Regions from separate parts of the Homo sapiens genome. Here region 1 is linked to region 2. A link means that fine-mapping ties the variant in region 2 to the expression of a gene that starts in the linked region. Tissue or cell type: aorta. Region 2 holds a variant in brackets; the other region holds the start of a gene. All regions are shown on one strand. Distances are between the middles of the regions.

The links. PIP is the estimated chance that this variant, and not a neighbour inherited with it, causes the effect.
Region 1: it holds the start of CPD, and the variant in region 2 is fine-mapped to the expression of CPD in aorta (GTEx, PIP above 0.99).

What each region holds. Positions count from the first base shown.
Region 1 is chr17:30,377,436-30,380,122 of GRCh38, forward strand. It overlaps CPD (carboxypeptidase D), which reads left to right and starts at 1,492. Exons shown (of 21, transcript NM_001304.5): 1 at 1,492-2,291. The coding sequence starts at 1,546. RefSeq lists enhancers at 1,078-1,247, 1,393-2,320 and silencers at 1,298-1,537, 1,838-1,967.
Region 2 is chr17:30,427,807-30,430,493 of GRCh38, forward strand. All of the region lies in intron 7 of CPD (carboxypeptidase D), which reads left to right. Among named protein-coding and RNA genes, the nearest start is that of GOSR1, 48 kb to the right of the region's middle. The variant C/T (reference allele first, on the strand shown) is at 1,587.

The DNA of each region.
Region 1 (2,687 bases), 50 kb before region 2:
TGTGGTTCTCCATGGCCTTCCAGATCAAATGTGCTCCCTGAAGACTGGCCTGTGAGCCCCTTCACACCAGTAATCCTGACCCTGCATGCAATTCCCAGAACACAAGGCATTTGTTCTCAAATCCTGCGGCTTTCTTTGCTTGCTTCTCCTCCTGCCTGGGATCCTTCCCATCCTCCATGGTTTCTCTCCTCCTTTCCTCCTCCTCAAGTTCAGATATTTCCCTCACCTGTACCCCCTCTGTTGTAGCATTTATCACAAACTACACTGAATCTCTTGACTGGGCAGAAGAATGAATTGTTTCCCAGCATCTAGCTTTGACATAAAAGTTGCTCAATAAATACTTGACGAATGAATGAACTCTATTAAAGTAGGGTTCAGTCATAGTTCAGGGAAGGGGCCCTGAAATAGCTGGCTCTGAAAGAAGGTAATGCCGGTTATTGCGATTATGTTGTTAGATGGGTAGAATTTCGCATTCGATTAAGGGATAGTTTTGGGTTTCTTCAAGCTAAAGAAACTAAAGCCTATAAAAGGTGATTTAAAAGACCTCTTCTCTAGACTTGATGAAACGCTGTAATTGCCATCTTTGGCTGACACTGAGGAGTTCAGGAATGCCAAGCAAGTGTTTCCAGAAATGTCAAACCTGCTGTTTTAAAATATGTCATTCCAGGGCACAGTTAAATATACAACTTGCTCCGATGAGGTGGGAGAAGTGGGCCGGTGAGCTGTGAAATGAAATCTGCCTAATGAGGGTCGAGGCCAGCACACACAGGGACCTATTTGCAGTAAAACAACGTGGGGTGACGCCTAAGAAATAGACAACATTAACACAAAGGGAGCCTACTACGTAGCACATTTCCGCTAGGCATAAAAGAGACACCTTTCCAGAAAGCAACTCTAAAAATGAATGCACCGCCTAGTGAGGTGCGAGCCTTCCTCCCCACGAGGCGTCCCGTGCAACCGCACGCGGACAGCGGGGCTCCAGCGGAGGCGGGGTGGATGCGGAGACAAGGCGCCTAGGAGACTGGGCTAAGGCTTTGAGTGTCCGAACGAAGATTCTTTCGAACCTATTGATTTTTTCTAGTCTTATGATTCTTTCGAACCTTTTGATTCTTTCCATTCTCGGTTCTAAGCATTAAAGCGCAGCTGAGAAAGGCAGCAACAAAGATGGGAAGAGAACTAGCAGGAGTTCTCAGAGAAAAATGGGTGATAATTTAGGGGAGAAGCCATAAAGAAGAGACTAAGCGAGAAGCGGAGCACACGCAGAAGACGAAACAAGGAGGAGGAGAAGAGAAGAAGAACCTTGGCGAAGGAAGAGAGTGACCAAACTCGTCCCGGACGGGAGGAGGGCAGGCCCGCCCAGAGGGAATCGGCTGCTTTAAGGGAAGCCCCGCCCCCTGGTGGTGACGCTCCACCAGGCCCGTCCGCGATTGGCTGCGGCCAGAGGGCGGGATGGGGTTGCTAGGCGAGGAGGGGATCCGGCGGGCCCCCGCCGCCCGGAGCGCTGAGCCGCGGGAGCGGAGCCGGGGTTAGCGGCGCTGCTGGAAGATGGCGAGCGGCCGGGACGAGCGGCCGCCTTGGCGGCTAGGGCGGCTCCTGTTGCTCATGTGCCTGCTGCTGCTGGGGAGCTCGGCCCGGGCGGCTCACATCAAGAAGGCGGAGGCGACTACCACAACTACGAGCGCGGGCGCCGAGGCGGCCGAGGGCCAGTTCGACCGCTACTACCACGAAGAGGAGTTGGAGTCGGCGCTGAGGGAGGCGGCGGCCGCGGGCCTCCCCGGCCTGGCCCGCCTCTTTAGCATCGGCCGCTCGGTGGAAGGCCGGCCGCTGTGGGTGCTTCGCCTCACCGCCGGCCTGGGGTCGCTAATCCCTGAGGGCGACGCGGGGCCTGACGCTGCCGGGCCCGACGCTGCGGGGCCGCTGCTGCCCGGCCGGCCCCAGGTGAAGCTGGTGGGCAACATGCATGGCGACGAGACCGTGTCGCGCCAGGTGTTGATCTACTTGGCCCGCGAGCTGGCGGCCGGCTACCGCCGCGGGGACCCGCGCCTGGTCCGCCTGCTCAACACCACCGACGTGTACCTGCTGCCCAGCCTCAACCCCGATGGCTTCGAGCGTGCCCGCGAGGGCGACTGTGGCTTCGGCGACGGCGGCCCGTCCGGGGCCAGCGGCCGCGACAATAGTCGCGGCCGCGACCTCAACCGAAGCTTTCCCGACCAGTTTAGCACCGGCGAACCCCCCGCCCTGGACGAGGTGCCCGAGGTGCGCGCCCTCATCGAGTGGATCCGCAGGAACAAGTGAGTGTTGCCTGCCCCCTCCCCGTCCGTGTGAGCCTCCAAGGGCCGAGGCTGGTTCCGGCACCCAGTAGGCGCTCAGACAATGCTGGCATAAGGGGTGGCGGTGGTGAAGGTGAAGGGAGACACCCTGTAACGGGGACAGGGCCCAGGCCGCGTAGCCTCCCGTCCTGCTAATCATCAAAGAATTGCCTCCTAGAGGCTGTCATTTGTTCAAGGGATGGCTGGAGGGGACACTCCTTTCTGACATTTCTGGTCCCTATTCTTACAGGGGCATAGAATATGAGCGAGAAGAGATCTTAAGGATAACCTAGGTCAGCTCACACATTTTATAGATAAGCTGTCAATGTTGTTATCTTATATCAAAAGTGCCTAATGTTATAGGCGCTGTGCTAATTT
Region 2 (2,687 bases):
CCCCTTTCTCCTCTCTTTTCTCACCTACTACTTCTCTTTCCCTTCTCTTACCTCCTCTCCCCTTTCTTCTCTGTCTTGTCTTTTTTCTCCTCTCCTCTCCTTCTCCCCCGCCTGTCCCCCTACTCTGTTCTTCCTCCTCCTCTCCTCTTCCTCTCATAGTTCTTCAGGTATTTTGTATTTATCTCTCACATTGGGAACTTGGTAACATATTCTTTGTCATTCATAAAAATTGATCCAAATGTTTAGTTCTGTTTTCTCCCTGAAGTTTAATAAACTCTTTTATGTAAATTTAGATTTTGATATTCTCTTTTTTACTTGGTATATCCTTAACTGCAGCAGAGTGACCACATTCTCATGTAGTACCTGAGCTCATATACCTCCATATAATTTAGCAGGATGGATCGGTTGAATAGGATGAGTGTCAAGATTAAAAATCGCCACAATGTCCAACTAAGGTTGCGAATAAGAGTGAAGATATCAGTACCCAAGAGAACCAAACTGTGTCCACACATAAACTCACTTGAACAAAATGTTCACTCATTTAATGTACAGTGCTCATGTATATGAATGTTCAATGTACATGAACGTTCATTCAGGATTATTCACAATAACAAAAAAGTTGAAACAACCCAAACAACCATCATCTGATAAATAGATAAATAAAATGTGGTCTGTCCTTACAATGAATATTATTTGGCTCGAAAAGGAATCAAGTGCTGATACATGCTACAACATAGATCCTTGAAACCTTACACTAAGTGACAAAAGCCAGTCATAATAGACCACATAGTGCATGATTATTATTTTTTTCTTTATCAAGTTGATTATATTTTTATGAAATTTTTAGAATAGGCATATCCATAGAGACAGGAAGTAGATTAAAGATTGTATTGGGCTGGAGTGAATAGTGGTAAGAGGTGATAGGGGAGTGACTGCTAATGGATTTTGGGGTTTCTTTTTGGAGTTATGAAAATGTTCTATAACTGGATAGTGGTAGTGGTTGTACAACCCTGTGAATATAAACAACTTTAAATGGGTGAATTGCATGGTATTTGAATTACATCAGTAAAACTACTAAAAAAAAAAAAGTGACAAGTATTAGCACCAGGGGCAATGGGGAAGAAATTTAGTTTCAACATTTACTGGAATATCCAGAAGTACCATAGTGGAGACTTCATGTCATATAGAGTAGCCTGCCATTTTAGAATGACAGTACATACTGATGGATATTTAGATTTAGGAGGTTAATTGAGATTCTCCAAAAATTGCTTTGAAAGATTGCCAATAGTAGAAAAAAGTACTTCTACAGTTGGTAATCATATATTGTTCTCAAAGAGTCAAATAAGAACTATGAAGTTATACCCTGGTTGGCAAAATAAATTTTTTGTTTTCTTTTATTATATTTTATGTGTTTAATGCTATGTTTGATAAAATTCACTTATTTAGAGCTTTAAAAATAGTCTCATAATAAATCACACATCATGTTGGCTAAATCTGGAAAGTTAATAATAGTTACATTCCAGTGAAAATAAGTCACAGATTTACAGATGTGGTGTCCAGACCTTGGCATGGTGAGAGGTAGGAAT[C/T]TTCAGTCATGCAGACATTTTTCTTTCCATGACATATTTTGTTTTCTCATCTTAAAATCCTTATTTAAATGGAGTTTGAAATCTTGGCAAAGCAGTTTGAAGGAGAATTTCTTTGTTGCTGTACAGGAGTAAAAAATCCTCATAGAGTCCGCAGCTGGAGCTTGTGAATTAAGCTGATAAAAGACAGATTAAAAGAAAAAAGCATACAAATTTTATTTGATGTTTGTATGTGGCACAGGCAACAGGCAGTGGGGGAGTTCATAGGAAAGACGTGAAACCCTCAAAAAAGCAGTGTTAAGGACTTAGTGCTCTTATAACAAAGGGTAATACCTTGTGGAAAAGTGACTACACAAAGGAAGGGGTTTAGACTTCTAGGGGTAAAAAATTGTGGGAAAGTGACTAGGAAATATGCGGGGGAAACTAATGAAAGATGAGGGTTATTTTACTAAGGTTTGTTTGTGTCAACTCATCTTGGTGTTGACTATCCCATCTCTGATGGTACCAGGAAGGTGCCTTTCTCACGGGAAATTTATGCCCTAATTTTAGGCAGAAAGAGGGAGGGTAGATAGCCTTTCCTGCATCTGCTGTTTCTCAGTTGCCTTCAGCTCTAAATAATTAACATGCTAAAGAGTTATATTCTGGGGCAGAATGTTCTGATTCCTTTCCCTGCCATCTTTATAATTTAGAAGGATCTTGAAAGAAGATAGGGGAAAGCAATATTCTTTTTCATAAAATTTCAAAAATTTTGATACTAATTTTTTTATTGAGGTGAAGTTTACATAATTCCAGTGGCGTTTAGTGCATTCATAGTGTTTTGCAACCACCCCCTCTATCTTGTTCCAAAACATTTTTATCTCCGCAAAAGGATACCCCACACCCATTTAACAGTGACTCCCCTTTCCCTTCTCCCCTCAACCTCTGGTAACCACCAATCTTTGTTCTGTCTCTAGGGATTTACCTATTCTGGATATTTCATAGAAATGGAATCCTATAACATGTGACCTTTCGTGTCTGGCTTCTTTCATTTAGCATAGTGTTTTCAAGGTTCACTCATGTTGTGGCATATATCAGTACTTCATTCCTTTCTATGGTTGAATAATA